Linked DNA regions of Homo sapiens: region 2 is linked to region 1. The links come from fine-mapping of genetic effects on gene expression. A gene starts in region 1. The other region holds a variant in brackets. All regions are shown on one strand. Distances are from middle to middle. Region 1 holds the start of GABRG3-AS1 (GABRG3 antisense RNA 1). Region 2 overlaps GABRG3 (gamma-aminobutyric acid type A receptor subunit gamma3).

What was found.
Region 2: its variant is fine-mapped to the expression of GABRG3-AS1 in spleen (GTEx, PIP above 0.99).

Annotation. Positions count from the first base shown.
Region 1 is chr15:27,158,658-27,163,657 of GRCh38, forward strand. GABRG3-AS1 (GABRG3 antisense RNA 1) reads right to left here and starts at 2,662. Exons shown (of 3, transcript NR_120343.1): 1 at 2,365-2,662. All of the region lies in intron 3 of GABRG3 (gamma-aminobutyric acid type A receptor subunit gamma3), which reads left to right.
Region 2 is chr15:27,052,118-27,057,117 of GRCh38, forward strand. The region is part of intron 3 of GABRG3 (gamma-aminobutyric acid type A receptor subunit gamma3); the gene reads left to right. All of the region lies in intron 2 of LOC124903449 (a long non-coding RNA gene), which reads right to left. Among named protein-coding and RNA genes, the nearest start is that of GABRG3, 83 kb to the left of the region's middle. RefSeq lists an enhancer at 197-696. The variant G/A (reference allele first, on the strand shown) is at 2,461.

The DNA of each region.
Region 1 (5,000 bases):
CCAAGGGTTAGAATAAACTGCTATGTAGCTAAGTTAAAAATTTAATAACAAATAAATGGCATTATTGTCAAATATTAAAAAAGGAAAAATAAAACCTTCACTATTTCCATGATAAACCATGTCATGTGGGGAATACCTCCTTATTAGGTGAACACATCTTACAGCTGAAATTTTTCGTATGGCAAATTACCACCTGAATATTTATTTAGAGAATGGTCTCTCATTTCACTCTAGTTTGAAAGATGTTGTCTTTAAAGCCATCATATTCCTCACCCACACACACTGCCCACCTGTTTCCACCAAAGTGCTGTACTTCATCAGCCACAGGCCATTGTAGTCAGGAAGTCATGTACAGTGTTCTCTCCAAACCGCTCACTTTGCTTATGGCACCTACAAAGGACTTTATTTTTTATTTTCTCCTCCCTCTTCCTCCACGCCCTCCTCCTCCATGTTCTGCTATAAAACTTATATTTATCTAAGCAATTTAATTTTTATGGTTAAAAGAATAAGATAATACTAAAAGACTCAAAAAGAAAAATACAGGCCGGGCATGGTGGTTCACGCCTATAATCCCAGCACTTTGGAAGTACGAGGCAGGTGAATCACTTGAGCTCAGGAGTTCAAGACCAATCTGACCAACATGGCAAAACCCCATCTCTACTAAAATTACAAAATTTGGCCAAGTGTGCTGGTGCGCACCTGTAATCCCAGCTACTGGGGAGACTGAGGCATGAGAATCGCTTGAACCTGGGAGGTGGAGATTGCAGTGATCCGAGATTGCGCCACTGCACTTCAGCCTGGGCAATAGAGTGAGACTCCATCTTAAAAAAAAAAAAGTGCAGCTCCCTCCATCCTGCCTGAACCTGGGTTCATTTTCCATTCTTTAAGGGATTTCTTCTCTTATTTTCCATCATGTTCCTAGTAATATCCTTATATGAACATTTGATTATTCGTTCTCAGCTACATTGATGCCTCCTGGAAACGCTAGACTTTCCCTGTCTTACACTCTACCCATTTTCCCCTTTTGTTCCCCCGCTCACCTTCCAAAACAATCATGAACCAAGATTTGGTCAGATACACATTCCCTGCTTACAATGTTACAGTCATGTAATTACTGAACTTTGCAGAATGTCCTAGTGTGACCTGCTTACCTTATGGGGAGGAGGTCGCATAGATTATGTTTGTCCAGAAGGCGATTAAGTCCCTTTAAAAGAAAATAATGTCTGACATCCAAGCACTGTAGTGTTTTGTTGGCAGCTGTGATGGAAGCACACAGCCCTCTCCATGGGTTGGAAGGCTTTAGCCAACCTCCATGGCCACAGACTCAGATTACCCTCCCTCCCATTCCCACAGGGCTGCCTGCCACAGTGGCCCACCTGAACCCCTCACTGTCATACTGCAAGACCCTCCTGCTCTTTCCTGGGTGGACTCCCTGGTTCCCCACCAGATCTTCCCAGTCTTGGTCATTCTGCTTCCTTACTTTGGTGGAGAATATTCTCCAGGAATCTTCTGAGGAATGTTGCATGGAAGGTAACTTTGTGAATGGGTAGAAAATAATTTCCCCTGAGAGTTGTGCAAACATAGATCCACTGCTTGTGGGTGAGTTCTGGGCCATCTTTCCTTAGGTCAGTCTGATTGTGAGCTGCTTCTTGCCCCAACCCCCTTTATCCTCAGCCACAACCAGAAAGGTCTTCCCCCTTTTATTCTGGAATTTCAAATGGTAGTATTTCTGATTTTCTTTTCATATGCCATGGACTAGGCAAGTCTTAACTATATGTAAAGTCATTTGATTATTGAGATTGTTTGGTATTATTTCTTTGATAATTCTTTTATTACTTTTCTCTTTTATAAGACTTCTCTGTTTGGTTTTATGCTAGTTTTTGGGAAATCCCTTCAAATTTACCTTCCAACTACTGATTTTTTTTTAATTTCTGAAGGATCTTTCTAATACTTAGGATGTTTCTTTTTTACAGCATCCTCCTGTTATTTCAATGAACCAGTAACTTTTTTTTTTTCTTTTGGAGGATCTTAACCATAGTTTCTGGAAGTTTTCTTCTGGTCTCACATTGCTTCTGTTTGTTTTGGAGTACATCATTCATGATAGAGCATTTCCCTACTGGCCTCTCATGAATAAGTAGATATGAAGCACTCCTGGCTGGTTGGAAGTTCTCTATGGGCCTCATATTAGGATGAAAACTGGGAATTTCAGAGAAGTACTGCTTGTTAGTATTTCCAGGTCTTTTTACTTTGGCTTGTTAATTTCCTCAGATGGAAGATTTTTTTTTTTCTATTGTTGCCTGGGAAGTTGCAAACCTACAGACAAAATGCTGGGAGCCTGTCAAGGAAAGGGGCTGGTGCACCCACCTGTTGTCTCTGTATGTCACTGAATCCAGGGTTTCTCTGAGTCAGCCTCCAATCAACAGCTCTGTGGCTCGGGAATCTTGAGTTCTCTTTCTTCTGTTTTGGACCCATCGTATGTTACTACTTAGAGATACGTGGAACCTCCAACTCCTGTGGTCCTTCAGAGTTTCCCCTGTCAAAACCTATGATGGTCTGAGATGTTACCTTACTTGAAAGCTAGTAAGTTGGCCTGCCATAGTGTCATGGTTTCTGGAAGAAGACAAGAGATGCCTGGGTCAGAGACAAAGGACATTGTTACACTGTAGGCATTGATGTCACAGCAGGCATTGTGAGCTTCATGTTTGCCTCTGTTCTCCTTGCCCCCCAAGTTCCATGGGGGCAGTGTGAAACAGCCAACCAGTTTGTGCCACAGCAGAGGAACCCTGAACTTAGGAAACCTCCATCTTTTACAATGTCTGCATACGTTTTTAATGATGCTTTTTGATGAAGAAAAGCTCTTAAAGAAGTTAAATTTGCTTGCCAATGTTTTTTCTTTTATGTTTAGTGTTTTTGATGTCCTATTTACAAGTTATTTGCTTATTTAAAAGTCATATACATTTGTATTTGCTTTTTTCTTAAAATTTGAATACTTTAGCATTTTGAATATATTAGCATTCACATTTTGGTCTGTAATTCACCTCAAATTAATTTTTACTTGTGGTATGAGGTAGGAGTTCAAGGTTCATGTTTTTCTCTTCATACTGATATCTAGTTGCTACAGGAACACGTATTAGAAAAATTAGTTTAAAGCATGTGCAGAATCTTAAAGACCAGGAAGGTGATACTGTAGTTAATACATCACAGCTTCTATAAACTAAAGGATGTGAAACCTAATGCAGCTGCCATTATTGTGTGCTACCAAATGACAGGCTCTTCAAAGGAAACAAAGATAAAAGATATCCTCCCTGTCTTTAAGGAACTTAAAAATATATGCATAGAAATAAACTTACACATACACTATAATTTTATTTATAAAAGTGAAGGGAAAATTTATGCAATAAAACTGATAATGATTCTCTAAGACTGTTTACAGCTTACTAGTACTGAAGTTGTCCCATCTGACCCAAAATATCTGGGGATGCTTAGGAAAAAATTAAGGATATAGGAAGAATTGTATATTATGACATATTGAGGAATTTCCTGGGAGAGAGCCCAACCCAAGGACGGTGAACTTGATTCATTAGCAAAGCTTTGGTCCACAGAGTTAGGGATCACGCTGAGTGTAGCATTTGGTACTCTGTTCACTCCTTGGGTACCTGAGAAGGAGGTGGTAAGGGGAAAGCTAAAACTGTTTCACTGAAATCATGGTAAGGTATTGACATGGTAAAGCAGCCATACTTTTGGCCTTCTTAGATATGGGTCTGTACAAAAGGATAAAGTGAATATCTCCTCCCTGTGCCACTGGCCACTGTGCAGCTTTGGTCCTCTTGGGCTAGATGGAATGGTAGTGGCACTTTTTTGACTTGGTAGGTAGGGGCCAGATCGGGTGCAGTACCTGGCAGTAATGGATATCAATGGTATCCAATGGAGAAACACGCCAAATGGAAAAGGGAGTACCTAGGGTTTGCTAGAATTGGAATAGGGAAAGAAAATGGGCATCACAGGATGACTGGCCAGAGACTGGACTGGGCCTGCTCCTTAGCATGTGTGAAGCATCTTCTGATGCCCCTAGATATAGCTGATGAGCTGAAGAAACATTGGCAGGAGGTATGAGGGTTCTGCATTCACAGTTGGGATAAGGGACCAGCAGAAAATTAGCTTGCACACATAAGGGTAAGGCAACATCATTGTTTTCAGAATTCAAAACATTGAAATCCTCTTACTTATTTGATCTTAGTAGCAACCCAAGGGACTGCAGCTGTTTTTCTAAAATGAAGAGCTCCACGTGATCACGTGGAGGTTACGAGATTCACCTACAATCTTAGTAGGTGACCCAGCTCTGGAGCCTGGGCTGGTGGCCATCACTTTCACTCTACCTCTTCTTGCCCTCGCCAGTCTCAGTGTCCCATGTGGCTGCTCCCTACATTACCTCTCAGCTCCCCCGACCCACCTGCCTACCAAGCCTGGTCCCAGATGAACTCTGCTGAAATACACCTCTCACCATGTCTCATCTCTACTCAGTATCCTCAGAGACTCCTACTGCCCTCTAAATTAAATCTAGGCTGGGCACCGTGGCTCATGCCTGTAGTTCCAACACTTTGGAAAACCAAGGAGGGAGGATTTCTTGAGGGCAGGACTTGTGTTCAGCCTGGGCAACTTAGCCTCAGCCTCCCAAGTAGCTAGGACTGCAGGCACATGTCACTATGCCCAGCTAATTTTCCTATTTTTTTGTATAGATAGGGTCTTGCTCTGTTGCCCTGGCTCCAGAGTGGGGTCACCTACTAAGATTGTAGGCAAATCTCATAACCTCCATGTGATCACATGGAGCATTTCATTTTAGAAAAACAGCTGCAATCTCTTGGGCTGTTACTAGGATCAAATAGGTAATAGGCCGAGACCAGAAGATTGGTTGAACCCAGGAATTTGAGGTTACAGTGAGCCTACGATTGTGCCACTGCACTCCAGTGAGACCCTGTCTCATAAATACATAAGTCAGTGCT
Region 2 (5,000 bases), 110 kb before region 1:
CCGGCCACAGATCGGGCGTTGGGGCCCCCTGATCTAAGAGGAAGAATGCCATGTCTGGTAGAAGGATGGTGTGTTCTCTGTCCCACCCCCATGAAATTTCTGGTGGGGACTGGTCTGTCTTTGTCTCTTGAGAGTGCTGAGTTACGTTGATCACAACACCTCTGATCACCTTGGGGGGGTGCTGTCACTCCCGTGCCGCAAATGGTGACCAGATCAGAGAAAGGACTCAGCCCTCAGGTGGTGGCACCATAGCCAGTGGCCAGTGGGGCCTCGGCGTGTGGCACAGGTGGTAGAAAAACTTGGCATTCTGTGGGCCAATGTGGAGTGTTAGGCCTGGAGAATCACAGAAAATCTAAGCATAAGGCCCTTCATTCCTCCTGTAACTCCTTGACAAAAGAAGTGCCACAGTGCCTGTGAGGGTGCATGATGGCAGGCCACTTCCCTCCTGCTGCTTCTAAAACACACGAAATCTAGTATCAAGACAAACAAAAATAAATGAGCAAGAAGATTCAGCAAATGGATCAGCAGATGATTAAAATACCTAATGTAGAGCTATGCTCATAGTTTAAAAAGTCTAGATACAGTGGACAATTTGGGGGAAAGATTAACCTGGATCAAAAGAAGAGGGAAACACAATTTCATACTATACTGCAAGACTACATTAACCAAAATAGCATGGTACTGGCACAAAAACAGACATACGGACAAGTGGAATAGAGTAGATAACCCAGAAATAAAGCAACACACATGCAACCAGATGATCTTTGATAAAATTGATAAAAATAAGCAATAGGGAAAGGACTCTCTGTTCAGTAAATAGTGCTGGGAAAACAGGCTAGCCACATGCGGAAGAATGAAACTGGACCCTACATATCACCATATACAAAAATTAACTCAAGGCGGATTAAAGGCTTAAATGTAAGACATCAAAATAACAAAATCCTAGAAGAAAACCTAGGAAATACCCTTCTGGATATTGGCCTTGGCAAAGAATTTATGGCTAAGTCCTCAAAAGCAATTGCAACAAAAACAAAAATTGACAGTGGGACCAAATAACTAAAGAACTTCTGTACAGCAACAGAAACTATCAACAACCCACAGAATGGGAGAAAATATTCACTATGCTTCTAATAGAGGCCTAATGTCCAGAATCTATAACTAACTTAAATCAACAAACAAAAACAAATAACCCCACTAGAAAGTGAGTAAAGGACATGGACAGATACTTCTCAAAAGAAGACATACAAGTGACCAACAAATGAAAAAATCCTCAACATCACTAACCGTCAGAGAATTGCAAATCAAAACCACAGTGAGACACCATCTCACGCCAGTCAGAATAGTTATTACTAAAAAGTTAAAAGCCAGCAGGGTTGGAGAGGCTGCAGAGAAAATGGAACACTTATACACTGTTGGTGAGAAGGTAAATTGGTTCAGCCATTGTGGAGAGCATTTTGGAGATTTCTCAAAGAAGTAAAAACAGAACTAGCAATCCCATTACCTAGTATATACCCAGTGGAAAATAAATCATTCTACCAAAACGACATATGCACTTGTATGTTCACTGCACCACTATTCACAATAGCAAAGACATGGAATGAACCAAAGTGCCCATAAATGGTGACAGAAAAAAGAAAATGTGTAAATATACACCGTGAAATACCGCGCAGCCATTAAGAAAGAATGAAGGCATATCCTTTGCAGCTACATGGATGGGAAGGTGGAGGCCGTGATCCTAAGTGAATTAATGCAGAAACAAAAATGAAATACTGCATGTCATCACTTATAAGTGGAAGCTAAATTTTGGATACACATGGACATAAAGATGGGAATAGACACTGGGGACTTCAAAAGGAGGGAGGGGCCGGGTGTGGCGGCTCACGCCTCTAATCCCTGCACTTTGACTAAGGCAGGTGGATCACCTGAGGTCAGGAGTTCGAGACCAGCCTGGCTAACCTGGTGAAACCCCATCTCTACTAAAAAAAATAGCACGCACCTGTAATCCCAGCTACTCAGGAGGCTGAGGTGGGAGAATCCCTTGAGCCCGGGAGGCGGAGGTTGCAGTGAGCCGAGATCGCACCACTATACTCCAGCCTGGGCGAAAGAGCCAAACTCTATCTCAAAAAGAAAAAAAAAAAGAAAAAAGGAGGGAGGGTGTGAGGGGGCCAAGGACTGAAAAACTGCCTGTTGGGTTCTGTGCTCACTACCTGGGAGATGGGACCGATCAAAGCCCAAACCTCAGCATCACGAAACATATCCAGGGAACAAACCTGCACGTGTACCCCCTGAATCTAAAATAAAAATAGAAATAAACAAGGAAGAAGGAAATAAGCAACACTGGAAAAAACTGTAAAAGTTATCAAAGAATTTCCTCCAAAACAGGTTCCAGAGCCAAAGTCACGTTTTTCAGAAGCAACATTCCCAAGGCTGTAAGACTTGACTGAGTGTTACAAGAAAGGC[G/A]GAAATGCATCCGTTTATTTTGTGGTGCCGCCCTGACTCCCATACAGAAAACTGGCCAGGACAACGCAGAGCTGCAGATCCGTCAGATGGAATGGATACAGATCAGTCTTGATGCCAGGGACGGTGCTTCAAAAGCAGCTATTACTCTGAAAGGACACTCAGCAGATCCGGGGGCTTCAGGTTGTGAGATGAGCTCTGTATCGAGCGGGGAGGAACAGCTGCTGTGCACCACACTGAAGCCCTGAGACCAGCGGGGAACTACCTGTCTTTATTAAGATCGACTACAAAAGTCTAAGTTACTGTCCTCGTTTTGAGGGGGACTCTGAGTGGACCCTTGGTGGAATGGTTGTCAGCCACAAAGCAAGAGCGTCAAACCTGAGAGTGAAACTGGGCAAAGTTTGTAAGTTACAGCCCAAGGGCCAAGACCTGTTTTTTTTTTTTTTTTTTTTTAAATGACTTGTCAGCTAATAATAGTCTTTACATTCTTAAAGGATTGTGAAAAACAGCAGCAGCAGCAACAACAACTAGCCCCCCAAACAAAAGAAGGCTGTGTAATAGAGACTCCGTGTCCCACACCAGAGCAGCCTGTGATAGAGGCTCCGCGTCCCGCACCGGAGCAGCCTGTGATAGAGACTCTGTGTCCCGCACCGGAGCAGCTTGCTAGCACGTCCCGGGCTTTCACCCCGTAACATCTTAAGAAGGATGGAAAGACCAATCAGTACAAAAAAATAACCTGAACTTGTTACATCTGTAACTCGGGGAAATTAGTTCTAAAGCTATCATTATTTGCTAATGTTATAAGTATTTATTTAGGAAGTCAAAAGGAGATAATGGAAGACTTAGATACAGGCGGAGCATCCCAAATCTGAAAATCGGAAATCCAGAAGGCTCCAAAATCCAAAGCTTTGTGAGCACTGACCTAATGCGACAAATAGAAAATCCCACACCTGACCTCACATGGCAGGTCACAGTCAAACGCTGGCGCAGAACACACGGTGTTTTCAGCGTTCCCATAGGAATAATAAAATTACCTTCAGGCTACATGCATAAGGTGTGTATGAAACATAAATGAATTCCTGTTTATACTTGGTTTCCATTATTAAGATATTTCATTATCTGTATGGAAATATTTTCAAATATGAAATAATCTGAGATCTGAAACACTTCTGGTCCCATGCATTTCAGATAAGGGATACCCAACCAGTAATGATGGAGATTATCAAAGGTTTGAGAACAAAGCAAAAGCATTCTCAAAAGTCATTGAGAAAAAAAAATCATCCCAGAAATACTAGGGAAATATATGGTTTTTAATTTTTAAAGAGTTTTATATTATTTTAATTGGCAAATAATAAATGCACATATTGATGAGGTACAATGTGACACTTTGATACATGTATACATTCTGCAGTGATCAACTCAAGGTAATATTTTTTAAAAATTTGCAGGAGGAGAAAAATCACAAATAGTCACAAACAGAAAATAAATGTACAGGCTGGGTGCAGTGGCTCAAGCCTGTAATCCTAGCACTTTGGGAGGCTGAGGTGGTGGGTTACTTGAGTCCAGGAGTTCGAGATCAGCCTGGGCAACATGGAGAAAACCCATGTCTACAAAAAATGCAAAATAATGAGCCAGGTGTGGTGGTACACACCTGTAGTCCCAGCTACTTGGGAGGCTGAGGTGGGAGGATCACTTGAGCCTGGGGGGAACTGAGGCCGCAGTGAGCTGTGATTGTGCCACTGCACTCCAGCCTGGTTGACAGAGTGAGACCCTGTCTCCAAAAAAAAAAAAAAAAAAAAGAAAAGAAAAAAGAAAATAAACATACATATTGAGATATTGAACCCGTTGTTTGAGTCAGGCATGGTTTTAGGTCCTGAAATGAAAATTAACACCAGACAACCAGCCTGAGAATTTGCAAGAATGTTCTAAAAGTGATCATGCAGTGCTGGAAAAAGCTGTGGAAAGAAAGTGAGAAGTGTTGTCCAGTGTTGGTGGGAGAATGAAACTGGGGTGTGTGGAGAGCGTTTGTGAGAAGCCTCCGCCGGAAGGAGCTCAGATCCTGCTGTTGGTGCTCCAAGCTCAGACTGAATGGGAAGTTCACAAGACCCCCCACGGTGGCTTCCACTGCAAACAGAAAACCAGTGGACGTGAGGATGGGAGAGGTGGTGGATGAGCGTTTTCATTAAAGTTGTTGATTTATTCTGCAATAAATGGAACTCGTTTGTAGGGTAGCTTTTTAAGAATGGCTCCAGCACACTATTCTGGATTCTTCACTGATTTCTCTTGAGACCCAAGACTGTGATCGGGAAAAAGCACCTTCTCATCATCTAGTTCCTCTGTGTGCAGTGTGTGCTTGGGTCCTCCTTAATGAAAAATATTGTCCCTGTCTCCTATCTCCTCTTGTTCAGACTCTATACTCTTCCCTGCTTATTATCAAGGGAAGGATTCAGAGACAGGGTGTGGAGTAAACATTGCTCTCATGTCCATTGTCCAGGTGGAGAAATAAACCTTCCAACAGTGGCCAGAACCCCTAACCCCAGCCC